Linked DNA regions of Homo sapiens. The protein of the gene in region 2 binds, or shares a complex with, the protein of the main gene of each other region. Each region holds a gene or a part of one and is shown on either strand. Other genes may lie near its edges.

Region 1 (7,021 bases), on a different chromosome or scaffold from region 2:
ATCGATGCTGAATGGATCAGTATGTTATTTTTATCTTATTCAACTTCATTCTCAGATTTTGTTGATACACAGAACCATTTATTTTTTTAATATATAGCAAAATTGTAAATTAATTTTTATTTTTGACACAAATTGGTCTTATTATTGGGGATGTGGTTTCCTTACTTGCTCCATTAATATAAAAATTATGGCACTTCAATGGCCTGACAAAATGTGTAACACCCAAATAGCATCTGCAGACACTTAGCAATTTTTTTTAATTAATAAGTTTTTATCCAACAGTATAAAGAAAAGCAGTTTTTTTTGTTTTTTTTTTTTTTTTTTTTTTGAGACGGAGTCTCGTTCTGCGCCCGGCCAGAAAAGCAGTTCTTAATGATGATGACCTTGATGCAAGAAGTGACTTGTAAGGGAAGGACATCATAAAATTGTAATTGTTTCCCTGAGAGCATGAGACTCTCTTTTGGGCTAAGATTCAGTGTGCAGTAATACATTGATTGTGCATTATTGTTGCCTGGTTGACAGAAGCTAGAAGTATTTAGTTTATTGCTTGAAAATCAAAGTGTTTGTAACAGAGGTGCAATCAACAGTTTAGTCATGAGAAATGATGTTTTTATACTAAATATAAATAGTTCATTTGTTTTGTTTTTGAATTTTAGGGGGCGCGGTTTGAGACAGTCTTGCTCTGTTGCTCAGGCTGGAGTGCAGTGGCGTGATCTTGGCTCACTGAAACCTCCGCTTCCTGGGTTCAAGCAATTCTCTGGCCTCAGCCTCCCGAGTAGCTGGGATTACAGGTGTGTGCCACCACACCTGGCTATAAATTTTTTTTTTAAAGAAATGGGGCCTCGCTGTGTTGTCCAAGCTGGCCAAGTCCCATTCACTTTTCTCCGCACTAGTGACTCACTTTGAGAATCATTATCCATTAGTGGGTAATGTGACCAATTTCATGAGACGTAATTTTTTTTTTTGAAAAAAAATAAAATACAAGTACCAGAGTAAATCACAAGCTATAAGGTAAATATTGTTTTGTTAAACTTGCTGTATGTCTGTTTTTATGTACTGTCTTGCAATATTATGTGTTTCTTACTTTGGGTGCTAGTCAAAAGAAGTTTGAAATCCAGAGTTTTGTACCATTTTTATTACCTCATTTCTTCAAAGTATTTTTAATTTATGTTGCTATGTTATGCAAATAGCTTGTTTTAGTAGCATTGGACTAGGGTAATGCAGGAGGAAAACTGATAATTTATTAAAATTCGTGGTGAGAGGTGCTAAAATAAAAAATATTGATAGTACTAAATGTCAACAAGGATGTGGCACATCTAGAACACTTATGCAGCACTGGTGGAAGTGTAAATTAGTACAGCCATTATGGAAAACTATTTGGCAATATCTTCTTTTTTGGAGGCAGTATCTCACTCTGTCATCCAGGTTGGAGTGCAGTGGCATGATCATGGCTCACTGCAGCCTCCACCTCCGAGGCTCAAAGGATCCTCCTACCTCAGCCTTCTGGGTAGCTGGGACTATAGGTGTGTGCCACCACATGCCTATAGTCCCATTTGCCCAGGACAGTCTTGAACTCCTGGGCTCAAGTGATCCTCCTGCCTTGGCCTCCCAAAGTGCTGGGATTATAGGCATGAGCTACTGTGCCCAACTGGCAGTATCTTCTTAAGCTGAAGCATGTCTTGTTACCTATCAATTCTACTTCTACATATATATCCAACAAAAATGTGAACATGTACACCAAAAGCCACATACAAGAATAATCACAGTAGCATTATTCGAAATAGCCAAAGACTGGAAATAACTTAAATATTCATCAACGGAAAGGCTAAATAGATTTTCATGTATTTACAAATGAATACTATATAAGTAACAAGAATAAATGAACCATTGCTATCTGCCATACCTTGCATAAATCTTACAAACATAATAAGCCACAGAAGCCAGATGCTATTTGATTTCATAAAGTACAAAAATAAACAAATGAACCTGTGTGTTAGAAGTCAGGATAGTAGCTATTTTTGGTGGTGATGTGGTGAGGTTGTTGCTGGGAGGAGGAATGAGGGATATTTCTGGAGTGTTGGTTATATACTATTTAATCTGGGTGCTTGTTATATATGTGTATTTGTGAAAATTTATTGAGCTGTACACTTAAGATTTTGCATATTTCTATGGATATTAAAAGTTTTAAAAATTTATACATTTTTGTCTGGTTTTAAAATTTGAAAGCAAATAAAACGCAATCAGGGACGAATTTTAAAGTACCTACTCTGTACAAGGCAAAGTGCCTTTGTATTCCCAAAGCTATTGGGAATACAAAGATGAAAAACTAGGACTTTTATTTTCTAAGGACTCATTTTTTTTGAGAAGACCCGTACTCAAGTAACATGATGCTAGACAGACTGTCCTAAGAATATAGGTCTTGAAATCACCCCTAAGGTTGCTGCAATGCTTTTGTTTCTGGTCTTGTCTGTGTTTGTTAAGATATCTTAATCATGTCCTTTTTTTCTTTTTCTTTTTTTCTTTTTTTTTTTTTTTTTAATAGCATCTGACAGATACGTCTCATGGTGTAAGAAATAAGTGCCTGCAGTTACTTGGCAATCTTGGCTCTTTGGAGAAAAGTGTCACAAAAGATGCAGAAGGCCTAGCTGCCAGAGATGTCCAGAAGATTATAGGGGATTACTTCAGTGACCAAGACCCACGTGTCAGAACAGCAGCTATAAAAGCCATGGTAAATGTGATTATGGAAACTAGTTGGGGCTAGTGTTCATTTTTGTTTTTTAAGTTTATAGCTAGTGCTGCCTTGGATACATTGTAAATTCTTCAGCATATACTTTCAGGAGGGTATTGGTGGTGGCCTCGCAGAACTCAGTGACACACATTCCTGTATACAAGTGTGCTTTTTTGGCTTTCTCTGGTAGCTTTCATGTGTATTTATGAAACATGGAAAGCACAATAGGAACCTGTTATAATTCCTTCGACTTGGAGGCATATGACTTGGTATGATATTATAATAGGGGGAGGTGGTGTTAATCATTTTTTCTTTAGGCTTCATATCATTATTTCATATTTTTCTAATACCTTCTTGGGACAGTCCATGGGTTAGATTTGTGAAATGCTTGAATGCTCCTATTGAAAGACGACAAGGTTTCTTATTTATATAGCACTAATTTTGGCTAAAAGGAACCATGTTAGCCTGATACAATAGGGGAAAATATGTGAGATTGTGGGGAGACATTGGAAATATTGCTCTTTTCCTCCCAAGCACTTAAACTATATATTTATTATCTAGTTGCAGCTCCATGAAAGAGGACTGAAATTACACCAAACAATTTATAATCAGGTACCTTATATGATTACTGTCTGGAAGGGGTTGGAGGTATCATGAAGCTGGGAGGGCGGCACACAGGTTCTCAGAATTTGAAAACGTAAGGACTTCGCTAGTTAATAGTGGCAGCGTTGATTGGGATGGATGTGAAGTCATATTCAAAACATACTTTTCAGGAAGAGAATGGAGGTTATGTAATTAAATAGCGCTAGTACATGTGAAAAGGACTTTTAGGAGGATTTACAAAGTTCAGTATGAGAATGAGAGTACCTGAAGAAAAGTGTAGCATTTAGAATAAGGAACGTGTTAGTCTTTCTGATCACTGTTTGGTTGGGCCGTACATGAACTCATTTCTGGGCACCACACTTCACAAACTAGAGTGTGTCTGGAGAAGGGTGACCAAGACCGTAGGATCATATAAAAAAAAAGTCACATGCATGTAGTAGTAGTGGTAAAGAAAGGTATAATGAAGTTGTGGAAAAGCTGATTGATGGCCAACCAAAAGGCCTTATGAGGCTGTATTTCTCTTGGAGGATAATTGACTGAATCTGGTAAAAGGAATCTAAATCCACGTTCAGAGATTAGGTTTTGTTAGCCTGCCAAGAGTGGTTTTATCTCTCATGGGAAGAAGATAATTAGCCAAGCCCCATCACAGATGTGTAAACCAAGTTTATTCCTCTATTGAATGAAGTAGAATGGGTCCAGAATGCTTGTGGTGGTGTGACCATCGCCTTCTTTTTCTATAAGAAAACTATGTGGGAAGCCAAATAATTCAAAGGAAACTTGGATCGTAAGGACTCAGAGGAAGGGAAGTTAGTTGGCTGATTCAGATGTTTGGTGGCGTAAGACTCTGTTAGTAATCTAGGCAAGCAGTAATGACAGCATCAAGGGAGTGAGGATGGACTGATAGTGTAGAATTTAAGATATAAGGTAGAATTTGCTTCCTTAATGAGTTCAGGTTTGCGTGTGTTGAGTATAAAAGTTTGATGGGACATCCATGAAGAGAATTCCAGCCATAAGTAGTTATAAAGGCCTGGAGATCAGGAGAAATCAGAGCTAAGGGTAGGTATTCAAAGCCATCAGTATTTAGGGAGTATGGGGCTACCCAGAAAGAGTGAGTGGATTGAAACAGAGGCCAGTGATTTCAGACCAAGGTAAACAGAAGTGTGTGCTTTGATTTTTACAGGGGGAGGAAAAAGCCATAATTGGTGTTTGAACCTGTGAGAACAGTACTGTTTGCTCCCAGCATGCTTTGCTGGGTTTGATCTGTTCTAGATGTTTTTATGCTGTCAGTCTGTGATTCTCCTTTCAGACATGGGGTAGGGTGCATAGTCAGAATACAGCCAGAGCAGCTGACAGAGGTCAAGATTCATTTTTAAGCAAAGATTCCAGAAGTTAAAACCACACACAAGTGTTTTACTGGGCATCCTTATCCAACCACCCTATCTTCACTTTGAAAATAGTTTAAACATTGCCTGAGAGGACACAGAACTAATAGACTTTTGGAATTCTTCTTTGCAGGCCTGTAAATTACTCTCTGATGACTATGAACAAGTGCGCAGTGCTGCAGTCCAGCTTATCTGGGTCGTCAGTCAGCTCTATCCTGAAAGGTCAGTGTGGGTGTAAGCTGGCTTTTGTTGATTGTGAAGCCGTTTTCCTCTCCTCTCACCATGCAAAAAGCCCACTTCTAGAAAAGAAATGTTGGTTACATTTTTGGAAGGCAATGGGGAATAAGGGAAAAGCACAGGCCCTGAAAATCAGATTGCCTGGTCCTCATTTTTCATCTCTGATAGGAACTTTCTGTACACTTTGGAAAGATACTTCACTTCTTTTATCCTAACCTTCTCATCCATAAGTGAAGAAATTGGAATATCTTTCTTAAATGGTTTTCAGTACTTTACAAAAAAATCTTTAAAATTGTTTGGGACCCATTTTAGTTTGGCTTGTGCCAAATGCCAGATAAAGATACCAGATGAGTTTGAGAATAATGATCTCTTATGTAGTTTTCCTGGTTAAAAATATTTTCACAGCAATTAAATTAACCACAGTGATTCTTTGAGGAGGTAGGCAATATTATTTATTATATTTTGTAAGATAGAATATTATATTTATAAATGTTTATTTATCTTTTATTTATAAATATTTATAGAATATTTTATTTTTCCTTGTATAGGAAAAAGGGGTGTTTTTTCCTGTTCATTAAACTGCCAGAATTTGAAAACCAGAATGAATTAATAAACCTGTAGGAGTAGGCTCCATTTGTAGTGTTTTAGGACTTAGACACATACAAAGAAAAGGGCTAACTGGAAATTGTGTCTTCTTTTAGGACTGGATTGATAAGTAAGTTTTATATTGATTTATTCTGAGATTTACTGTATTTATAGAAGTTCAGTCTGGACACGGTGGTGCCTGTAATCCCAGCACTTTCGGAGGCCGAGGTGGGCGGATCACCTCAGGTCAGGAGTTCAAGACCAGCTTGGTCAACATGGTGAAACCTCGTCTCTACTAAAAATACAAAAATTAGCCGGACATGGTGGCACACGCCTGTAATCCCAGCTACTAGGGAGGCTGAGGCAGGAGAATCGCTTGAACCTGGGAAGTGGAGATTGTGGTGAGCTGAGATCACACCACTGCACTCCAGCCTGGGTCACAGAGCAAGACACTTTCTCTCAAAAAAAAAAAAAAAAAAAAAGAAGTTCAGTTACAGAAGATAATAAACTTAAGGATATGAAATATTCGGTGGAAGCTAGTTTTTGATAATTTCATAAATCTTTGAACCTTTGGTGGGTTACGTACTTTTTTTTTTAAGGCAGGGTCTTGCTCTGTGGCCCAGGCTGCAGTGCAGTGATGTGATCTCGGCTTACTACAACCTCCAACTCCTGGGTTGAAGCAATTCTCATGCCTGAGCCTCCCAAGTAGCTGGAATTACAGTCGCGCACCACCACACCCAGCTCATTTTTTGTACTTTTAGTAGAGATGAGGTTTTGCCATGTTGGGTAGGCTGGTCTTGAACCCCTGGCTTCAGGTAATCTGCCCGCCTCAGTATCTCAGTGTGCTGGGATTACACGCCTGGCTGAACCTTTGGTGGGTTACACACTTTTATTCAATACATTGAAAATTTGCACCTGGTTGCAGTGACTCAGCCCTGTAATCCTAGCACTTTGGGAGGCTGAGGCGGGTGGATTGCTTGATCTCAGGAGTTTGAGATCAGCCTGGGCAACATGGTGAACCATCTCTACTAAAAATATAAAAAATTAGCTGGGTGTGGTGGCATGCTTTTGTAGTCCCGGCTACTCAGGAGGGTGAACTGGGAGGATCACCTGAGCCCAGGAAGTTGACACTGTGGTGAGCAGTGCTCACGCCACTGCACTCCAGCCTGGGCGACAGAAGTGAGACCCTGTCTCAAAAAAAAGCATAATTTGCAATGCAACTGAAAGAGTTGGTTTGTACTCCCAGAGTGATTTGTTTATTCCAAACTGTATTTAATCATTCTAGGATTTGAACTATTCAATTATCATTTTTGTGTGTGTCAGTCTTCATTGACTGTTCTCAGTTTATTGAGCCTGCAGCCTTACTTACTTATGTATTTATTTGTTTATTATTATTATTATTATTATTATTATTATTATTATTATTATTATTATTTTTTGAGATGGAGTCTCGCTCTGTTGCCCAGGCTGGAGTGTAGTGGCACTA
Region 2 (7,974 bases):
CGTGCCCGGCCCTCTCAAAATACTTTTTAGTGGGAGAGACAGAGAAGTTCTAACAATTACAATATAATGTGTTAAGTAGTATAGCTGAAAGAAGCAAAAGGTGCCTTGAGAGCATAGAATAGGGATACCTGATAAGTTAAAGGGTAGGTGGTTTGTCAGGGAAAGGTCTCTTAGCAAGGGAACACTGGAGGTGAGACTTAAAGGACACTTAGGAGTTTGCATTAAAAAAGAGAATGAAAAGCATTCTAGACAGGAGGAACTGTGATGAGAAGGTCCAAGAATATTGAGAAGGATTTGAGACATAAACAGTTCCAACTGACTAAAATGACACCATGGTGGGATACGGCAGGACTCCAAGCTAGAGTTTTAAGTCAGACCATAAAAATCTGTTTTTGGGTTGGGCGCAGTGGCTCAAGCCTGTAATCTCAGCACTTTGGGAGGCTGAGGTGGGCAAATCACCTGAGGTCAAGAGTTTGAGACCAGCCTGGTCAACATGGTGAAAACCCATCTCTACTGAAAATACCCCAAAAAATTTAGCCAGGCATGGTGGTGGGTGCCTGTAATCCCAGTTACGCAGGAGGCTGAGGCAGGAGAATCGCTTGAACCCAAGAGGCAGAGGTTGCAATGAGCTGAGATTGTGCCACTGCACTCCAACCTGGGCGACAGACTGAGACTCCACCTCAAAAAAAAAAAATCTGTCTTAGGGCTTGGCACAGTGGCTCACGCCTGTAATCTCAGCACTTTGGGAGGCCAAGCCGTGCAGATCACTTGAGGTCAGGAGACTGACACAAGCCCGGCCAACATGGTGAAACCCCGTCTCTCCTAAAAATACACAAAAATTTAGTTGGGCATGGTGGCAGGTGCCTGTAATCCCAGCTACTTGGGAGGTTGAGGCAGGAGAATTGCTTGAACCTGGGAGGCGGAGGTTGCAGTGAGCCAAGATTGAGCCACTGCACTCCATCCAGGGTGACAGAGCGAGACTCTGTCTCAAAAAAATATAATCAATCAATCTGTCTTTTTAGTTCCATCCTAAAGAAATTCAACTTTATCCCAAAGCAGGGTAGTGTTTTAGTAGTTGGGCTGATTTATAAAACAGTCTCATACTTGAGCCTTGATTGGTGGAGCTATGTCAACCTGGAGGGATGTCTCTAATGCTGAACTAGAAGTCTTGGCTGGACCCAATTCTATTCAATGTTTTATCCATAATATTAATGAAGATATGATCTGCTAAGCTAAAACAGATAGCCAGTGTAAAAGAGTCAAAGATCTTTACAGGCTGAAACATGAAAGAATATATATATTTTTTGAGATGGAGTCTCACTCTGTTGCCCAGGCTAGAGTGCAGTGGCGCAATCTCGGCTCAATGCAACCTCCACCTCTCGGGTTCAAGCGATTCTCCTGCCTCAGCCTCCCAAGCAGCTGGGACTACAGGTGCACACCACCACACCCAACTAATTTTTGTATTTTTAGTAGAGACAGGGTTTCATCATATTGGCCAGGCTGGTCTAGAACTCCTGACCTCGTGATCCACCCGCCTCGGCCTCCCAAAGTGCTGGGATTACAGGCATGAGCCATCGTGCCCTCCTGAAAGACATCTTACAAGATAAAATAGTCACACTATAAAGAGCATCATGTTGAGCAAAATGGAGCTAGATGTCTTCTGAGATCCTTGTGCTTCTGGAATTCTATGACTATTTCTGAAGGACATTGGTCCTCACCTTTGTATAGTTAGGTCTTCTAACTGCTGGAAGCTCAATTACTCTGCAACCTACATTAAGCACCTAGTATACATGAAACATAATAGATATTCTAATGTGTTTTTCTGTTTTTCTCATTTTTTCATTACTTGTGTTTCTCTCTTCCTCCAGTCTGATTGAAAAATAAAGTAGAAGAATAAAAGCAAGCTGGTCAAGCCAGGTGCAGTGGCTTGCACCTGTAATCCTAGCACTTTGGTGGACTGAGGGGGGACAGATGGCTTGAGTCCAGGAGTTCAAGACCAGCCTGGCCACATAATGAAACCCTGTCTCTACAAAAAAATAGAAAAATTAGCCAGGTGTGGTGATGCATGACCATAGTCTCAGTTACTTGGGAGGCTGAAGTGGGAGGATCACCTGAGCCCAGGAGGTTGAGGTTGTAGTGAGCCAAGATCGCCCAACTGCACTGCCGCTCTTTTCTTGAGAACTTGTGTCGAAAAGGAAAAAAAAAGAGAGGCTGGGTACAGGGACTCATGCCTGAAATCCCAGCATTTTGGGAGGCCAAGGTGGGTGGATCAGCTGAGGTCAGGAGTTTGAGACCAGCCTGGCCAACATGGTGAAACCCTGTCTCTACTAAAAATACAAAAAATTAGCCAGGCATGGTGGCAGGCACCTGTAATCCCACCTACTCAGGAGGCTGAGGCAGGAGAATCGCTTGACCCTGGGAGGCGGAGGTTGCAGTGAGCCAAGATCGCACCACTGCACTCCAGCCTGGGTGACACAGCGAGACTCTGTCTCAAAAAAAAAAAAAAAAAAATTAGCCAAGTGTGGTGGTGCACACCTATTGTCCCAGCTACTCAGGAGGCTGAGGTGGGAGGATTGCTTCAGCTTGGGAGGCAGAGGTTGTAGTGAGCCGAGATCGTGCCACTGCACTCCAGCTTGGGCAACAGAACGAGACTCTGTCTCAAAAAAAAAAAAGTTTTATTGGCAAACATTACAATGTTTCAATGATTATAAAGATTTTTGCTAAATTAATACAAGGGGGAGAGATTAGAGTCTAGGATGACTTTTAGGTTTCTGGCTTGAGCAACTCAAGGTCAAGTTGGTGAACTGGAAGAAAAGGAGAGGGGGACTTGGAGGAAGTGTCAGCACTCATTATGTGACACTGCAGCCATCTCATTCAGTGATTTTTCTGTTTCTCCATAGATCAAGATGGAGATACTGAATCTGCATGATGTTTCTCCATTAGTGAACAGAGGATCATAATTAGAGTTGGAAAGGATCTTTAAAATCACTTAGTTCATACCCACATCTTCCTCTCATTCGTCCCTCAAACCAATGTTTGCACTGCCTTCACACTTTTCCTGTGAAATGACCATCCATGGAGATGAAATTGCTTACCCTCTCTCAGTTTCCACAATTGCAAAAGGCGAATATTACCTACGTCACAAGATTGAATCAGATAATATATATAAAGCATTTATTACAGTGCCTAGCAAGTGTTCAATAAATAAATCCCAAATATTAGCTTAAAAATGCTAGGACAGTACAGTGTGCAACCCATTAATAGAGTGTGAAATCAGTTTTAGTGTGCAGTGACCAGCAGTTTTTTAAAGAGAAGTAGAAACATGTAGTGTGTGTGTTATTATACGAAATATTTGTTTCCATGTAAATGTGGGTTTATATGTTATATATTTATATGTTTATATAGCATATAAATTTATACACTTACACTTATTTTTGTATGTGGATATATACATATGTTTTTTCTGGGTCACAATGTGAAATGTATTATTGTGGGTCAGGTGGAAAAAATTTTCAGAAGCATTGCAACACACAATTCTTTTCTTCCTTTGCTGATCTATGTTGAAAGTCATATATATATATATATTTTTGAGATGGAGTCTGGCTCTGTTGCCCAGGCTGGAGTGCGGTGGCATGATCTCTGCTCACTGAAACATCTGCCTCCTAGGTTCAAGTGATTTTCCTGTCTCAGCCTCCGAAGTAGCTGGGACTACAGGTGCTCCATCACCACGCTGGGGTAATTTTTTTTTTTTTTTTTTTTTTTTGAGACGGAGTTTCGCTCTTATTGCCTAGGCTGGAGTGCAATGGCACGATCTCAGCTCACCACAACCTCCGCCTCCCAGGTTCAAGCAATGCTCCCGCCTCAGCCTCCCAAGTAGCTGAGATTACAGGCGCACACCACCACGCCTGGCTAATTTTTGCATTTTTAGTAGAGGCGGAGTTTCACCATGTTGGTCAGGCTGGTCTCGAACTCCTGGCCTCGTGATCTGCCTGCCTCGGCCTCCCAAAGTGCTAGGATTACAGGCATGAGCCATCGTGCTCGGCCTAATTTTTATATTTTTTGTAGAGTTGGGGTTTAGTCATGTTGCGTCAGGCTGGTCTCGAACTCCTGACCTCAGGTGATCCGCCCGCCTCGGCTTCCCAAAGCGCTGGGATTACAGGCATGAGACACCACGCCCGGCTCTGACTTTATTTTTAAAGAGGTTATAAAGTGCTATATCTTTGTAAAATATTTTTATTTCCAGCTCCTAGCACAATATCTGGTAAATAGAAGTTGCCAAATAAACGTTGATCGAACTAGGAACAATAAATAGTATGAAGACATATGGACTAGCGGTTCTTCATATATAGACTAGTGGTTCTTTTCTGAGTGATCAGACTTCCTTTGAGAAGTTGTTGAAAGTTTTGGACCCTCTTCCCAGAAGAAGTGCCGAGCACTCAGTTCTGAACGGATTCCAGAGAATTCCTGAATCCCCGTGCATTGCCTCTCTAAGGTTCTATGGGTCCCCCAAGTTAAGAACCTGAAAGGAAGGTGTTTAACTTCTGACAGCGGAGGTGTGAGGTCAAGAGCGGAAGAAAGTTTGGGGTTAGATCACTTTTAAAATTCTCCCACAAATCCTGGGATTCTAGAATTTTGGTTCTGGGAAGGCACAGGCAAAGATTTAAAGAGTACAGTTTGGTACCACTAGTGTCAAAGAATAGTGGGAACGATTTTAACACACGTTATGCCATTTGAATGCCATGGCAATCCTGTGATGATGAAATTTAAGTTCTGAGGGGCTCAGTGGCTTGCTTGTCTAAAAGGAAGGAGCTGGTAGGCTCTGGAAATCAGAGCCTACCAGAATCACATTTCTAAATTTTTGGCGAACAAGTAGGGCAGGGCAAATAAAGTGGAGAAAGGGGCGGGGCCGCGCACGCGCACAGTTGCATTGGCGCCGACGTCTCTGCCTTTCCTCTCGCAGCCACCCTTCCTCTCAGACCAGTACGGTGGCCGACGGGAGTCAGACGCTGGGGATGAATGAAGGTGCTGGGTGCAGGTTGAAAAAGTCTCCCGCTTTTCCGTTCCTACAGTCCCGGTTCTGCCTTTGTGTGGTGCCCCCATCCTTCCCACTTTGTATCGACAACCCGGTTGGTCCCGGCGTCTGAGTTCTTGGTGTCCGAGTCGACTCGAGGCACAACTAGGGTTTGGGGTTCCGGATATCGCCTAGGCCCAACATCGGACCGCGCTCTCGATTTCTGCCGCGTCCCGCCTCTAGGACGCGGAGTCCGTGTGCGGTTCCGTGAGGCTGGAGGGTAGATCTTAAGGTATGAAGCGTCCGCTTCTCTGGCCTCAGCGCGTTCCTAGGTCCGTGTCGGAGCCTGGCCAGACTTTGCTCAGCCTGAGGGACTTATTGGTTCTAGTTGCGCCCGGGGCGAGACGGAGGAGCACGCAGGTCTTGGCTCCTCTGCTCCAGTCAGCCCGCCCCTCTGTTAAAAGAGCAGCCCCTCCCTGAAAGCAAAGCAGTTTTTACCCACGACTTTTACCCACGCTGCTGCTAGTCGGTCGGCCTTGAGAGGGGACTGCTTTGGCTGCCAGCTCACTGCCTTTTTGTTTACTTTTTGTGCCTTGGATGATTCCTGGAGACAGAGAAGTGCGCTAATGAGACGCGTCTTTCTCACATAGCACCCACACATCTGCTTTTTACCCGGTAACACAGGGGACATAGGATAGTGTTGTGGCCTCCAGAGCCTTGAATCTGGCATTGGTTCTGCCCAGTGATTTGCTAGTTTTTCCACCGACTCATGGAGGGTGAGAAAGAGAAGCCCAATAGTTCTTGATGTATATCGGGGTAGGCATGTGAAACTATCGGGGTATGAAAGAAAGCACTTAACTATGACCATTCACTTTTGTTTACATTTTGTGGAGCTCATGTGACTGATATAGTGGAGAAAGTCTTGGACTGGGATTTTAGTAGATGAGGATTCAGCCTTGGATTGTGCCTCTAACTAGTAATACTATTTTGGGCGTGTTACTTCATCTCTCTGGGCTTCATATTCCTTCTTTGTAAAATATGAGTATTAGAGCAGAAGATTCCTGAGGCTGGAAGAGACATTAATATACTCTGTTTTCTTTCCCATTTCCCAGGTGACAGTATAAACCTAGGGAGACAGAGAAGCCTTGTCTTGATTGTGCCAGGAACATTGCCAACATAGGGACCTATTAAAGATACACCACATTTTTCAGGGTTTTTAGAAAGTTGGGTGTTCATACATGTGAAAGTTAAACTCCTACTTTCATTTGTATTTTTACCATTAGGATCAACAAACAGTAATAATGACTGAATGTACAAGTCTTCAGTTTGTCAGCCCTTTTGCTTTTGAGGCAATGCAGAAGGTGGATGTTGTTTGCCTGGCATCTTTAAGTGATCCAGAATTAAGACTTCTTCTGCCCTGTTTGGTACGGATGGCACTTTGTGCACCTGCTGACCAGAGCCAAAGCTGGGCTCAGGATAAGAAACTCATCCTTCGCCTTCTTTCTGGAGTGGAAGCTGTCAACTCCATTGTTGCATTGTTGTCCGTGGACTTTCATGCTTTAGAACAAGATGCCAGCAAAGAACAGCAGCTTAGGTAATGTTATGTTATATTATATGTGGATTTGGATTTGACAAAGAACAGGGAATCAGATATTTTTTAGAGCTCTCCAGAAAAGAGAGAATGAGAATCTAAATTCTGGAGAGCATTTTACTTAGGTCTTTTCTGTATATAGTTACAGTTCCAGAATCTTTTGACTTCCATGTTATAAAATGTTATCTAGAGAAATATGGCAATGTGCTGTTGTATGTGGGCTAAACTCATTAGGCCAATTACTTTCAGTGGGAAGTAGGTAGGGTAACTTCCCCTAGATTAGAGGGATTTATTGGAATCACTTGGGAGGCTTTTTTTTTTCTTTTTTGAGACAGAGTTTCGCTCTTGTTGCCCAGGCTGGAGTGCAATGGCGTGATCTTGGCTCACTGCAACCTCAGCCTCCCAGGTTCAAGCGATCCTCCTGCCTCAGCCTCCCGAGTAGCTGGGATTACAGGCACCTGCCACCATGCCCGGCTAATTTTTTGTATTTTTAGTAGAGATGGGGTTTCATCATGTTGGCCAGGCTGGTCTCCAACTCCTGGCCTCAGGTGATCCACCTGCCTTGGCCTCCCAAAGTGCTGGGATTACAAGTGTGAGCCACTGGGCCCAGCCTCTTGGGAGGCTTTTAAAGCTTAGATATTCCCAAAGATTCTGGGCAGGTGCTATGTCCTTCCCTGCCCATTGTGAATCTAGTAGCAAGCCACCATCAGTGGAAGTGAGTGTTAATTGTCAGTTGTGGTAGAGTATTTATTTATTTATTTTTATTTTTATTTTTTTTTAGACCGAGTCTTGCCCTGTTGCCCAGGCTGGAGTGCGGTGGCGTGATCTCGGCTCACTGCAACCTCCACCTCCTGGGTTCAAGTGATTCTTCTGCCTCAGTCTCCCGAGTAGATGGGACTACAGGCACGCGCCACCATGCCCGGCTTTTTTGTATTATTAGTAGAGACGAGGTTTCACCATATTGGCCAGGCTGGTCTCGAACTCCCAACCTTGTGATCCACCTGCCTCAGCCTCCCAAAGTACTGGGATTACCGGCGTGAGCCACTGTGCCTGGCCTATGTGGTGGAGTATTTATTATACGTAGGATGTGAATCCCTGAAATACACAGGCAAACTAAATAGCATTTCAGAAGTAACAGAACATTTTAGAACACTTTATACATCCTTTTATAGCTTATTTCAATAAAAGATAATTTTTATGCAATTATTTCCATATCAGTGTTTTCATAATTGTTACATGTTTTGTACTTCATTAGGCATAAACTTGGAGGAGGCAGTGGAGAGAGCATCCTGGTATCACAGCTTCAGCATGGACTGACGTTAGAGTTTGAACACAGTGATTCACCTCGTCGATTGCGTCTTGTGCTTAGTGA
Region 3 (7,821 bases), on a different chromosome or scaffold from region 2:
CAATATACTCTTTCTTACCTTAGCACTTCAGTAGAAAGTGTGCCACCCCCACCTCCATCTTAAGTCACCTCTCAAGTTTCAGTTTTTCCTGCACATTCCCTCAACAAAACTAGAAGTTTCACTGTTACATAGCCCAAAAACATTCTGTACTTATTTGTAATATTAATCACACTGTTAATTATGTAAATAATCTTTCTTTCTCATTAGAATGTAAGTTCCATGAAGGCAGGCAGTGGATTGGTCTTGCCTACTGTTGTAACCCCTGTCTGGCAGAGTTCCTGGAAAACAGCAAATAACTGTAAATGTTGGCCAAGTAAATACTTGTTATCTACTTCCAATTTCATAAAACTTTCTCTTCCCTTGAGTTCTGTTATACTCAACTTTTCTGTTTTTCCTCTTCTATCTCTGACTACTCTTTCTTTGGCTTATCTTCTTTGTTGCTTTTGGTATTGTCCAAGTATTTGTCCTTGGCTATCTTCTTAGTTCTGCTAGCAGTTTCTTCTTGGTAATCTTATACACATCAGGTTTTCAACTATCATCTCTGGGTAGATGATTTAATATGTTTTACCCCAACTTCAATCTCTTTTTTTTTTTTTTTTTTTTTGAGACATGGTCTTGCTCTGTCACCCAGGTTGGAGTGCACTGAGATCATGGCTCACTGCAGCCTCGAACTCCTGGGCTCAAGTGATCCTCCTGCCTCAGCCTCCCAAGCAGCTAGGACTACAGGCATGCACCACCGTAACCATGCCCAGGTAATTTTGTTGTTTTTTAAGTAGAGCCAGGGTCTTGCTATGTTGCTCTTATCTGGTCTCAAACAATCCTCCTGTTGTGGCTTCCCAAAGTGCTGGGATTACAAGTGCGAGCCAAATCTCTTAAATTTGAATCCCATGTTTCCAAATGCTTAGTGTATGTGTCTATGTGATTCCTTAATGGCATCTCAAATTCAGTTACAACTAAAATTGAGATTCTGATTATCTTCCCGAAAAGTTCCTTGTCCTGCTCTTACTTTCAATAAATGACACAACTTTCTTTTAGTCAGGTTTGAGACCAAAGTCTTTCCTTCACTGAGTCTTTCCCTACTCCTTATATTCAAATAATCAGAATTCCTGTGGATTCTGACGGCAATATTTTTCACACTTGTCCTACTTTTCACTTCCACTGCTACTACTGAAATTCAGGTTTTATTAGCTTACTTGAACTATGGCAATAACCTCGTTATTTTCCTTGACTTCAACATTGTTGCCATATGAATTTTCCTGAAACCCAGTTTTCTTCTTTTTCATTAAAATAAAAAAAAAAATTCTTGCTGAGAAGTTAGGGCTTTCTACCACCTTCGAAATAAAGACCAAATTTCTTGGCCTAGCATTTAAGAAGATTCAGTAACTGGCACAAAAATTATCATTCATCATCCCCAGATCTGCCTTATAGCTAGCTGACCCTGCCACTCTTATTTTTTTTGTCCAGGAAGCTCTTTACCTATTTTTATATATCTACATCCTATCAAGACCCTATTCAAATACTTCTCATGAAGATTTGACTGACAGCTGCTGTGCCCCTCTCCATTCCAAACCCTATTAATAGTCTCTCCATTCAAGGATATCTCATAGTGCTTTTTCATGGTATTGCAACTTTCTCCCTTGAAGCATTTTTTTTTTTTTTTGGCACAAGTGTTATGTCCCCTACAAAACTCTGAGTACTTTAAGGGCAGAGTCTATATTTATCTTTTTGCCTATCTCTTTGCCACTTTGCAAAGTACAACAAAATAATGGCTATAGAATTACTGGAATTAAGTGATCAAAGTATAGTGGTCTTATCTCTCCTTCTACACAATTGTAGCCATTTCCAAGGTCCCTTCAGCAAAAATCACAAAAGTAACTCACCCCTGCCCCCACAAAAAAAACTCCAAACATCAAAAAAGCAAAAGCAAAGCAATCACCTCTTTCACGACTGGGGACTTGTAGTACAATGTTCCTATCTGTAAAATTCTCACAATCTTTCGCCTGTCTTGCTTAATTCATTAATCCCACTGGTCTGTAAACTTGATGACAGCAGGAACTTGTTTTGTTCACTGTTATTTCCCTAGTGCTTGAAACTTAATAAGGGCTCAAAAATATTTATCGAATGAACGAACTAGGTTTTTTGCGTAAATGTCACCTTATAAGGCTTCTGTGATCTCTCCAGTCTAAATTGGGCATTCATATATAAATATAAGTATGTGCTTTCTCCTAGATCCATTTTTCACCCTACCTGGCAATCTCAAAAGAAGTCCAAAGTTGATCATATGCACGTGCCCCAGATGAAGGAAACAGAAACTGTTCACATAGAGTGCAGTATTATCGTTGCCATTTCATAATGGCTCTAAAAAACTTTGTTCTTCATGACTTCGCAAGCTCTTGCAACCCCTTCCAATAAACATTATTTTAAAGATGCTGCCTTTTTCATTCCTCCACTGAGTTCTTGGTTCTGGATAACACTGATACCTTAGGGACACCTGGAATCGCAGGAGAAAAGGCTCCGATTCCAAACCAATCAAGTGGCTGAAAGCTGACAGCAAACACTTAGAAAAGGAATGTCAATCCTTTGATCAAAGCATCACACATCGAAGTCCTAGAATGGGGGATGGTCCTTGACAGGGGAGCCAAAAGATGAGAGACAATGAGGGAGCTACGTAGAGAAGTCACTAAAACCCTCCGACAAAGTCCGAGGCAGGATTCCAAGTCCCTTGTCCCTAGACCTAGAAATATGCTCGGTCCGCATGTCCCGGCCCGCAACTCCCTCGGAGGAAGCACAGTCCTCACTGAAAGGGGAGAGCAGTCAGTCTAGGGCACGCAACCGCCCGTAAATTATGATTCCCCTTGAGGAGCGAGGAAACTAATACCCCACGTAGCTACTCTCCCACCTCGCTCCTGGCGCGGGGGTCTCGAGCCTCCAGGAGGCCAGGAGCAGAGTCGCTCAGCATAACTCACCGTTCCGCCCCGCCCTGCCGATCCGTCTGTTCCCGGTGGTCCCTTCGGAAACGGTTCCCGCACTGGCCGGCTCCGAAAGCAGGAAAACAAAGGTTCCCACAGTAGGGGCGGGGGAAACGTTTGGCAGTGCGACAGTAGGAAGTGACGTTACTTCCCTTTTTCCGGTCCGCCGGATTATGAATGACGGCCGGCGCGAGTATTTTCCACATAAGGTGGCTGTCGTTTTTCTCCTGGCGTCTGTGGAGGCGAGTGGTCTGCGGGCAGCAGCTCCCAGAGGCAGCCTTGGAATTCCAGCTCGGACTGGGCGGGAAGGCGCAGGCGGCCCAGGTCGCCGACACGCTCACGCACCCTCCCTGCCTGGCCGCGCCTCTGCGACCAGGTAAAGAGGGCGCTCGGGCCGCCGGCTTCTCAGCCTCCGCGACCCCCTAAGAACTGGTCTTTTCTTCGGGGGTCTGCAGGGCTGAGGATGCGGGGGAAGGGTGGGAAGGACAAGGGCGTGGTATCATCGTCCTGATTTTTCTCCCGCCCTGGGGCCGCCTCAAACTCCTTTTTGGCCACTCCTGCTGAAGGTGCGGGTTGAGGGCTCTGGGCTTCTCGGTAGTACGCGTTTCCCAGTTTCCCCCTAGCCAGTCCCTCATGTCTTCCTCTGCTGATGGAGAAATGGGGCAGCTTCCAGTTGGAGGCGTTGGTTGGGGTGGTTTGATATTTGCTGTTAAGTGTTACTTCAAGACCTCTTGGGTCACACTAACTTCTCTTCTCTCTTTGGCATTGAGTTTTCCATTCCAGCCCTTCCTGATTGCAGAAAGCAGTTCTATGTGAATACTACTTAACATTTACTCCAAAGGACTTGCTTCATTTGGGGCCATTTGCTTATGTTTTGTCATCACAGCAGTATCTCTTGGGTTTTTAACTTCTATAGAAAGTTTAATTTGCATGAAAGTTGCTTTGGTTTCAAAAACGTTTGCTAATACACGTACTTCCCATCCCAACTTTCTACCTGGTTTTGGGATGAGATGACTTGTTTTTTTCCCCTTTATTCTTAATGCCAGGATCCCATTCCTTGTCATAAATTCTTGAATATCAAGAAAATGCCAGCTTTAGTAATATATTGTGTGCTACATTATTGATAAAGAAGGTGGTGTATTTCTATTTTACCTAAGCTTATCTGTAAAAACAATGTTTACAGGAGAAAATGCAAAAGCTAGCAAGAACTAGTGATGTGATAATTTTAAACATGTAAACATAGTCATTTAAATCCATGATAATAAACTGTTATAACACAACTAAGTGATTCGCTGTCATATTTAATAAACATTAAGCTATGCGGGTTTTTTTTTCTTTTTTTTTAACTGCCTGATGGGGAGCATACACCACTGAGAGGATTGCTTTAAGCACACTCATTACTAAAAATTGTGTTTGTATTACACCTGAAAGTATCGTTTTGTGAGGTCTCACTTCAAAAATAAGACTGAAAAGGTCAATGAGATTTGAGAATCATCATTTCTTTTTATTTTATATACTTTGCACTTCTACGTGTTTTTGCTTTAATTTAAACACAGCTCAAACTTGAGCTTCTGTAGTAGTGGGCCCATCAATTTTTTTTTTTTTTTTTTTTTTTGAGCTGGAGTCCTGCTCTGTCGCCTGGGGATGGATTGCAATGGCAACATCCGCCTCCCGGGCTCAAGCAATTCTCCTGCCTCAGCCTCCCGAGTAGTTGGGATTACAGGCGCCCACAATCACACTCGGCTCCTTTTTTTTTTTTTTTTTTTTCAGTCGAGGAGGGGTTTCACCATGTTGGCCAGGCTGGTCTCAAACTCCTGACCTCAAATGATCCGCCCGCCTCGGCTTCCCAAAGTGGTGGGATTACAGGCGTGAGCCACCGCGCCCGGCCTGTTTTTGTTTTTTTAAACTTGTTTTACTTGTAGCTTTTGTTTCATCATCTGTGATTTTTAAATAAAAATAAATACTGAGTATCCAATTAGCTTTTCTAACAAAGAATAAATACTTGGAATGCAGATATTGAAACCATTTAGATTAAAACAAGCACAGGTATTGTTTGCTGTGAAAATTCAGTAATTTTATTTCATACTTGGTAACATGTTAGCCATTTGCGCTGTCGATCACTGTTAATTATGAGGTCGGGTTTAGCTGAAGGCATTATGACTCCATGGCAACAGATGATTCCCTGATTCTCCAGAGAGATTACACACTTCGTTTGTGGCTAAGGTTACTGTAAGCTTTTCACTTAAAAACTTTTCCTACTTCTTTACCAGATAAGAAAACAGCTAATTTTAATCACTGGCTTTTGTTCTCTAGGACTTAACTGCATCCCATATTACGTATTTAATGAGCTTGAAAAAATCTCAGTGTTTTTCTTATCGTTTTTGACCCTAAATATTTAAGGTAATTGGCTGCTATCTATCTGTTGAGGGGCATGTTTTTTTGTTTTGTTTTGTTTTGGTTAAATCTATATTATTGTAATAAAATAGGGTACAATTTTCAGCCAAATACTGTTGTTTTATGAAAAGCATAAAACACAAGATAAGTTATAAAATTCAAAATGTTGAACATATGATGTAGGAGAGAATTTAGGCAGGTTTAAATTTTAATCTTTAAGAAAAGTAAGTGTTTGTGATTTTTCATACTTATAAACTGTGTTGAACTTCTTATTTTGTACAATAGGTTGATATGCACATGGATTAAGGGTTTCACGTTTATATTTTACCATTTCATGATTCCCTGGCTTTCAGCCTCAGTAACAAATATGTTTTTTTTCAGTATTTGGTTGGGAAAAACTTTTCAATCAATATAAATCCTTTACCTTTCATGGAAAGAAGCTTGAAAATATAAACCATAATTTGGGTTTTGCCCATCAAGGTTTGCATATTTTAATAGTGCCAGTTGATAAGGAATTTGGTTATAAATTATAAAGAAATAATAGTAGCTAGTATTTATTTAAGGACTTAATATGTGACAAGCTTTTTTCTGTATGGCACACTACATGGTAGGTACAGTTATTATTGTCTCCATTTTATTATATAAGTGAGGAAACAGATATGCAGAAAAGTTTTTTATAGCTACTAAGAATCAGAACCAGTATATTTGCACCCAGGTGGTCTGGCTCAACAGTCTCGGCTCTAATCTATTACTTTATAATTCTTGTTTTATAAATATTCTTGCTAGGCACATGTATGGAATCTAGTTAAGATTCTTAGTTCCTTTGCCCTGGATATAAGTATACATAAAAACTTCTGTGCTTGCTTTATTTATGAGTTTGGTTAGATTCCATTTATACTTTTCCCGATTCACCTCACAAAGGTGATCTTATTTCTTCATTTTAATTTATACTTAGTTGGTCCTTAAAATAGAGTTATTAATTTGGAAAAGAAAGAATGGTGTCATGAAGAATGAGATACACATTGTACCAAGACTAAAGTTATTAATAATACTCTCAGACAGTGATTTCTGACATTCATATATGTACATTCATTCCTTGAACTAAAGTTTCAGTTCATTAAGCACTGGAGATGTTATAGTGTTAGGTGATAAGAGCTATGAAGAAAAAGGGAAGCTAGGTAAGAGGCTAGGGTGTGCTTTTTCAATTCAGGCAGTCAGGAGAGGCTGTTCTGAGTTAATATTTATGCAGAAAAATCAATGAAATGAGGGAGCAAGCCCTGTGAATCTCTTGGAGAAAAGCATTCTAGGCAAAGCAATAGCAAGTACAAATATTCTCAAGTGGCACCTTCCAAAAACAGCAAGGACAGCTATGGCTGGAAGGGAGTGAAGAAGGATAAGAGATGAGGTCAGAAAGGGATAGCTAGGGTCACAGTAGGCCTATAGGCCATAATAGGAAATTTGGATTTTATTTTGAGTGTGCTGAAGAGCCATTGGATGGTTTTGAGCACGAGACATCTGATTTATGTTTTTAAGGATCACCCTGTTGTTGGAGAATGGACTGTTTTATGGAAAGTGGAGGAAAATAGTTAATAGGCTTTTGCAGTAGTCCTTGTAAGCACTGGCGATGACTTAGATTAAGGTGGTAGTGGTAGAGGTGCTGAGGAGTTGGATTTAGCATATACTTCAAAGGTAGAGATGGCAGGGTATGAGAGAGAGAAAAAAAGAAGTTGAGTGGGACTTTTGAGTTTTTGGCCTAAGCATCTGGGTAATTGGTGTTGCCATTTTACCAGGAAGTAGAACACGAAGGGAAGGGGAGCAGGTTTAGAAAAACATCCACATGGAGATGTCAAGTAGAATATAGTAGTCTGGAGTTAGAGGAGAAGATACGGCTGGGATATACATGTAAGAGTCAGATCATATTTAAAGCTATGGCACTGGAGATCACCCAGAACAGTGCTGTCATATTGTGAGTTGTGCCCCATTAATGAGTCAGGAAATCAATGTAATGAGTAACAACCAGCATTTAAAAAAACAAGCACAGAGTAAAAAATATCAGATTTATCCCATATTGTAGGATAAGTATTGCTTCATGACATTTTTGTTTCTATTTTATTCAGTGTATTGTGTGTTACATTATAAAATATATACCTAATTGTGTGGCATGCTCAAAAGTTTGAAAGCCAGTATTCGAAGGATGGAGTGTGGATTGAGCAGAGAGCAAAACACTGAGCTGTGGGTCACTGAGACATCTGCAGAGTAGCCAATGAAAGGAATCAGGAAAGAATTGCCAAAGAATTTAATCCAGTGCAGAAACTTGTCAAATAACCCAGCCTTTGGAATGGAAGTTTATATCAAGGATTACTGAAACCAGCATACTTGCTTAGAATAACATAATATCTGACAATTTTCACTTTGGTAAAATTGCTTCAATTTATGAAATTTTATTTATAAATAGTAC
Region 4 (7,021 bases), on a different chromosome or scaffold from region 2:
TTTGCTACGGCTGATGAACCCACATTGACACGTCACTCTCGCCCAAAGCCCAGAGTTTACAGTAGGGGTTCCCTTGGCGTTGTGCTTTCTATGGTTTTGAACAAATGAACAGTGACCTGGATCCACCATTACATCATCACACAGAGGAGCTTCCTCACTCTGCAGATCCTCTGTGCTCAGCCTGTTCATTTCACTCTCCACGAATCCCTGGTGACCGCTGAGCCTTTTACTATCTGTATAGTTTTGCCTTTTCCAGAACGTCATACAGTTGGAATCATAGGGGCCTTGGCTTTTCAGAGTGGCGCCCTTCACTTAGGAATAGGTTCCTTCATGTCTTTTCGTAGCTTGGCAGCTCATTTCTTTTTTAGGGCTGAATAATATTCCATTGTCTGGATGCATCAGTTTCATCCTTCACCTGCTGAAGGACACATCTTGGTTGTTTCCACGTTTTAGCAATTAGGACATTCATGTGCAGGTTTCTTGTGGACATGATTTTTCAAAATATCTTTCAAAGTGGCTGTATCCTTTTGCATTCCCACCAGCAGTGAATGAGAGTCCTTGTTCTTCCATATCCTTGTCAGCATTTGGTGCTGTGAGTGTTCTGGATTTTGGCCATTTTATTATAACAGGTGTATAGTGGTATCTCATCATTTTAATTTGCAGTTTCCTAATGACATACGGTGTGGAGCATTTTTTCGTATGCTCATTTGCCATCTCTCTTCTCTGATGAGGTGTCTGTTCAGGTTTTTTGCCCACTTTTTAATAGGGCTGTTCATTTCTTTTTGCTGAGGTTTCGGAGTTCATAGATTCTGGGTCACAGTCCTCTCTCAGGTGTGACTTTTGCAGGTATTTTCTCCCAATCCGTGGCTTGTCTTCTTTGTTGGTATTTTAGATCCAGTCCCGCTCACCCTCCCGTACTTTGGTTCCCCCTTCAGCCTGGGCAGGCTCACATTTCTTTGTATTTTTTCTATATTTTCCAGCTCATTCAGACCAATAAGCTGAAGCACTACCCCAGCATCCACGGAGACTTCAGCAACGACTTTAGACAGCCCTGTGTGGTGTTCACCGGGCACCCTTCCCTCCGCTTCGGGGACGTGGTCCACTTCATGGAGCTCTGGGGAAAATCTAGTCTCAATACCGTCATATTCACGGGTAAGTGAAAAAAATAAAGAAACAAATTGGTTCTCTCCACTGAGGCCATGAGTGAATGCACCTACAAGGTAGAGACCCAGGGAAGGATTTTGCAGTGAGACATAAATACAAACATTGTTCTACTGTAGGTACCAAAGAATGAAGAAACCGCAGAGAAAGAGTGAAGCAGTGTGTGCCATTGGACAGCTGGGCATCCAGCGAGGCCTTCATGCCTGTGTTTTCAGATTTCTCCAAGACAGAATCCTGCTGAGTGCTTTTGCTAGGATATCGTAAGCCATTTCAAGAAGTGCAGTGATTCAGTAACGGTGTTGTTTTACCTGTTAGGAATTGTTTACAGAGGTAGATCTTTTTCTTCTGATTGTGGTTTACTCTAACTGTGGATTTTCTTCTGGAGACAAATCCCTCAGGGGAAAAAATTCCTTTGATAAGGTCAAGTAGAGTGTTTACATAGATAATGACTGTATCATTTTATCAGTGTAGCGTGCCCAGCCCTTTGAATGCTAGGTCTTTTTTGCTTATCTGTGATAGGGGATATCTTGGAAATTATGCACAGACCTTTTTTTTTTTTTTTTTTTTTTTTTTTTTTTTTTTTTTTAGCTCATCAGTCATCATTAGTGTTAGTGTATTTTATGTGGGGCACGAGATAGTTCTTCTTCCAGTGTGGCCCAAAGAAGCCAAAAGCTTGGACACCCATGGGTTAGGGTCTTCAGTCGGCCTTGGGTTTTAGAAATCTTACAGGCTATGAAGAAAAAAGAAAAAAAAAAAAAAACCTTGATTTGAAATCTGGCCCAGCTTGCAGCAACCTCAGCCAATTCACCAGCAAGCATGACTGTCCCCACAGTAAATGGGACTGTCAGTAGCTACCTCTGTGGGTCACTCTGGGCACCAGGCACAGAACCCGGCACATGGCGGCTGTTGGGAAAGCACTGTCACCAGCTCCCTTCCTAGCTTTAGGAGCTGGGAATCCAGTTACACCAGAAGCACTGGGGTGACGCTTCAGCCCTTCCCCCAGCTTTCATTTGTGACCTAGAGGCCACCAGGAACACGCCTGTGGTCAAACCAAGTTGGGTTTATTGCCTCATTTCAGCAAGGGGAACACACACCATGGGTAAAAGAAAAGCAAAAAGACCTTGCAGGACTCCGGCTGGTGTTCGGTGATGCGCAGGTGTTCGCGGAGGTGAGGCGTCACCCTGTATTGGGTGGCGTCAGGATGCAGGGTCATTCTGCGATGGGTTTCTTAACTCATTCTTATCTAGAACACAGGAAGAATGGAGCCGGCATAGCGGGAAGTTTGCTTATGCTGTGGTCAGGAAAGTTCTGTGTTCCGTGTTCAGGATGATTACAGAGGGGTCTTGTCTTTGGCCGGATCCATCATTGTCAGACAAGGTGTTGGTGTTCCAGGAAGTTGCGTTCACACAGCAGGAGGACACATGGCTTTGCTGTGGGTGCCAGGCCGGCTCTTGCTGATACCAGGCCAGGCAGAAAGTGCCAGGAGAGGCCCCGGTCACCAGGACTGCTTTCCTCTTCTCAGGCCTGCTTTGGGCTAAAGGTGGAGGAAGTTGGGCCACAAGATATTGATTGACAACACCCAGAACTTCATAGCTGCCAAGATTTCATTAATTAGGAGGTTGTCCAGAGAATGTCCTATGTAGTGGGGCTGAGGTTGGTGTCTCCTGCTCCTGCTGCTGAGTGGTGACTCGACATTTGACATGACAGTGGTGACAGCATCTACACAGCACAGTAGATAACCTGGCCTTTAGTACAAATGTTTCTTCAGCTAAAAGGAAATCAGGACTGTGTGATTTCCTGTGACAACTCTGGGTAATGGGTTTGCATTTAAACTGGTTTATGGGGCTTCCAGGGCAGAAGTTGTGTCTGGGAGAGGTTGGGGCCATCTTTTTTTATTGTTTTGTGACTCCTGGATACATGAAAAGGGGGTCAGTATTCTCAGAGAAGCACAATCCACTGGAATGGGCATTTATGTACCTGGCAGCTCTGCCAGTTTGTCCTGACAACAGTGGAGACGTCTCTGTGTCTGGTGTGCCTAAGCCAGGGTCCCTCGTCGCTGGGCACAGACTGTGCTGGGAATCAAAGTGTCACATCAGTTAGGACCGAGCGAGGTCTTTTGGCTCAAGGCAGGCAGCTCCCTCGAGTTGGGGGAATGTTCCCTGCCAAGCAGGCTGCAGCAGCCCTCAGGAGACAGGCTGAGCAGAGGGCGAGGACTCTTCCCGGTCTGAGGGGCTGGGGCTGCTGGGGAGCATCCCAGTCTCAGTCTACAGACCATTCACGGGCCTGGAGGCGGGGCCGTGCGCTTGTCTTCCGGGTGCATCTCACACCTGGGCGTTAACTCAGAGCTGATTCTAGGTTCCCGGGTCTGTACCAGGCCTCTCCACTGTGAAGTCAGTTTTTCCCATTGTATTAAATCAGTACCTTGTGGGGGACTCTTTGAAACTATATACATATTCTGTTCTCCCTCAAAATGGTATCTGATATTTTTAGCATTTGTTGATGATTTTCATCTGAATAAGTGATGAACTGTAATGGTTGCCAAACGGTGGTTTTGGTTTTTATTTCATCGTTTGTTTCTTGGCATTTCGTTGTAAAAAGAGCTTTCTTTTCTCCCCCACATATGTATTTCTCCCTCATTTACCTCATCTGCCTCTGCTGAAGCTTGGAGCCCACCCACAGGGTCCATCCCAGCCTGCCCCTCCTTCCACGGGGCCCCTTTGACCTCCGTCCCCCACGTGTGCTTCCTGGCTCCCTCCTGACCCCCTGACTGTCTGTGGGCCCTCAGCGCCCCAGTTGCTGTCTGGCTTGGCAGCTCCTGTGTAGTCTGCATTGTAAGATTTCTTTCTTGTACTTTCCCTAGAACCAGACTTCTCCTACCTGGAAGCCCTGGCTCCTTACCAGCCGCTGGCCATGAAATGCATCTACTGCCCCATCGACACCCGGCTGAACTTCATCCAGGTGTCAAAGCTGCTTAAAGAAGTGCAGGTAATGAAGGACACTGCTTGTGCCTTCACGTAGTCATGTCACCTTGGTGTGGCTCATGCTTGTGTGGGGTGAGGGGAGAGAGATCTAGCTGTGTTTGATTCTTGTCTTCAGTTCTCACGCATCTGCAGAATGCTGGGACACATGCCAGCCCCCCTCCACACTGAAAAGGAGTGGTCTTTACACCCTGACCGCAGTTTCCATTCTAAAGAAATCAGATGTGGAAGGGAAAGAAAACCATCTGTGTCCGCTTAAAAGCAAACCCTCTCACCCCTGCCAAAAAAAAAAAAAGTCATTCTAGAAACATACTCACTAAGCTGAGACAGTTTAAATGAAACGCGTTACTGGGGCCGTGTCGCACGTGTAGGCTGGTACCACAAACAGTGCTGTCGGGTTTGGGTTTTGTGGCAGTTTTTGGTCATTTGTTTCACTTCACATTTTCTGCCCTGGAGAAAGGGAAGAAGTAGCTGGGGTGCAGTGTAGACCAGGAGGCGCGCGTAGCAGGAAGGCAGGGCCACGGAACCACTGTGCTGGCTCAGCCACTGCTCGCTGGGTTTCTGGCTCTTGAGAGTCGGGAGAGGAACTGGAATTGGCAAGGAGGACAGCTGACACCGGCGAGGAAGAGCTCTCCCTTTCCACTCCCTGGTGTTCCCAGGAGTGAGATGAGGGTGGAGGGGCCCAGCACAGCACCTTCAACCTCAGGATGAGAGAGGCCCTTTCACAAAACTCTAAGGCAGGGGAACAGGAAACAGAGAAAGCCGGAGAACCCCAGGAGGGCCCCAAGAGCGGATTCTGGTGATTATTAATGTGCTTGCCCAATGAAGAAAGAATACTGGCACTCTCTAGGTATGATGAGAGCAGACAGCAAACGTGGGGCCTGTCTACAGTGATTCGCTACCCCAATGTATGCTCATCCACGTTAGAAGCAGCAGTGAAAGGCGTGTTGCTTTTCATTATTAACTTCAAATCCCAGTCCCTAAACCAGCTCTTGACGCCCCTCTGTCAGGTGCTAATCCTGGAAACTGGAGGCCACCTGGTCTCCACTTTAGGTGAGGAAAACCTGGGAGAAGCCATCAGACTGCACCTGTGGCATGAGATGCTTTGAGACAGGTCAAGAGGAGGAGCAAAGGGCAGTTTGGAGGAGAAAAGTATTAGCCCTAAGGAACAAGTGCTTTTGGAAGCTCAGCCCGGTCAGCCTGGTGGAAAGCCGTCTTCAGCAGGGAATTCAGGGCTTGGTCCAAGCTCTTAAGTAGAAGCAGGGACAACACAGTGCCCCTGTGGGCTGCCAGCATTCCTTTTCATTTGGGTGATATTTGTGCAAAGTAAAAATTGGTTTACTAATCTTTTTTTCTCAAGATAACAAAAAGAGACATTTTGTTTAAAAAAAAAAACAAAAAAAAAAAACTCTGCCTCTGCTCCTTGGTTGCACATGGTGAGCACATGAGCTGAGGAGTGCCCACTGCCTAATACCAGCTGACCTGCAGATCCAGCGGAAACTCCAAACCCACAGCGCCAGCCCGGCACGAAAAGCCACAGCTCTTGGTAATCAGCCAAGAGCTTATAATAGCAGGCATGTGGGAATGTTAGAGAAAGACCGTGCCCCGAGGAAGCCCAGAGACCGCTGGGAGCAGACACATGGAAGTTACCGTGAAACTTATGTAAAGAGTAAGAAAGATAAATTAAGCTGAGGCAGTTTAGGGGTTTCCGAGATGTTTCTTCTGCCCCAGTGCCTTCACGTTCCCTCTCCTGTCTACGGTTCATTGGGCTTGAGAGGATGAAAGTTCACCTTGGCCTGGAAGTGGTGAGCCTGTAATGGCGGGGAGTGGATCGGGGTCAGGAATGGGCCTTCCACAGGGGCCACTGTACTTCACACCACCTTTCTCAACTGTCCCATTGGTTCCTCAGCCCCTGCACGTGGTGTGTCCTGAGCAGTACACTCAGCCGCCCCCAGCCCAGTCCCACAGGATGGACCTCATGATCGACTGCCAGCCCCCCGCCATGTCCTATCGGCGGGCTGAGGTTCTCGCCCTGCCCTTCAAACGTCGGTACGAGAAGATCGAGATCATGCCAGAGGTGAGCTGTTCTCCTTCCTAGGGTTAAACTAGAGCTTTCCACAGAGGCTCTTGGAGATCGTGCAGGGGTGGCCTTCTTTTGGATTTATGTCAAGTATAAATGAACCAGGCTGCGCGCAGTAGCTCACGCCTATAATCCCAGCACTTTGGGCGGCCAAGGTGGGCGGATCACTTGAGGTCAGGAGTTCGAGACCAGCCTGGCCAACCCAGCCCAGCCAATATGGCAAAACCCCATCTCTACTAAAAATACAAAAAAAGTAGCCAGGTGTGGTGGCACGCATCTGTAATCCCAGCTACTCGTGAGGCTGAAGCCTGAGAATCGCTTGAACCAGGAGGTGGAGGTTGCAGTGAGCCGAGATCACACCACTGCACTCCAGCCTGGGCAACAGAGTGAGACTCCAAGTATGAATGAACAAAGAACATGGACCCTTAACCAAGTAACCGGGAAGAGGGGGGATTTTCAGGGCCTTCTTGTTTTTCAACTAATAAAATAACAGCTGTTAGTCAGGACTGCTCCTTACCTAGCATTCAGCAGCGTGAGCCCTGGGCCACATCATGGGTCAGAGCCCTGGGAAGTGGAGATGCTGACACCCGCTCTGTCCCTAAATACCATAGGATGGTGACTTTTCTCTTCCTTCCTGGACCTCAGTTATGAGTGAGTGTCAAGAGTTTGCTGAATTCAGAGGTAGATGGGGGAGATAACAGGAACCAAAAAATAAGGATTGTAAACTTGGTTATTTATATCCTCTTGAGCATACTTGCAGGTTTTGGTCTATCAAAGTCTAAGTATTTTATAGGTCTGTGAA

The links.
Region 1: INTS2 (region 2) and INTS4 share a complex: the UniProt entries of both Homo sapiens proteins name them as parts of the integrator complex.
Region 3: INTS2 (region 2) and INTS12 share a complex: the UniProt entries of both Homo sapiens proteins name them as parts of the integrator complex.
Region 4: INTS2 (region 2) and INTS9 share a complex: the UniProt entries of both Homo sapiens proteins name them as parts of the integrator complex.

What each region holds. Positions count from the first base shown.
Region 1 is NC_000011.10:77,956,660-77,963,680, reverse strand, and holds part of INTS4 (integrator complex subunit 4), read left to right. Parts: intron 1-2,542; coding exon 2,543-2,728; intron 2,729-3,289; coding exon 3,290-3,340; intron 3,341-4,846; coding exon 4,847-4,935; intron 4,936-7,021. UniProt on the Homo sapiens protein: Component of the integrator complex, a multiprotein complex that terminates RNA polymerase II (Pol II) transcription in the promoter-proximal region of genes.
Region 2 is NC_000017.11:61,924,983-61,932,956, reverse strand, and holds the start of INTS2 (integrator complex subunit 2), read left to right. Parts: upstream 1-4,974; 5' UTR 4,975-5,016; coding exon of another isoform or gene 5,017-5,022; 5' UTR 5,023-5,303; intron 5,304-6,294; coding exon of another isoform or gene 6,295-6,312; coding exon 6,313-6,605; intron 6,606-7,857; coding exon 7,858-7,974. UniProt on the Homo sapiens protein: Component of the integrator complex, a multiprotein complex that terminates RNA polymerase II (Pol II) transcription in the promoter-proximal region of genes.
Region 3 is NC_000004.12:105,705,672-105,713,492, forward strand, and holds the start of INTS12 (integrator complex subunit 12), read right to left. Parts: upstream 3,019-7,821; 5' UTR 2,967-3,018; exon of another isoform or gene 2,230-2,966; intron 753-2,229; exon of another isoform or gene 711-752; intron 304-710; exon of another isoform or gene 208-303; intron 1-207. UniProt on the Homo sapiens protein: Component of the integrator complex, a multiprotein complex that terminates RNA polymerase II (Pol II) transcription in the promoter-proximal region of genes.
Region 4 is NC_000008.11:28,774,954-28,781,974, reverse strand, and holds part of INTS9 (integrator complex subunit 9), read left to right. Parts: intron 1-980; coding exon 981-1,152; intron 1,153-4,021; coding exon 4,022-4,146; intron 4,147-6,048; coding exon 6,049-6,216; intron 6,217-7,021. UniProt on the Homo sapiens protein: Component of the integrator complex, a multiprotein complex that terminates RNA polymerase II (Pol II) transcription in the promoter-proximal region of genes.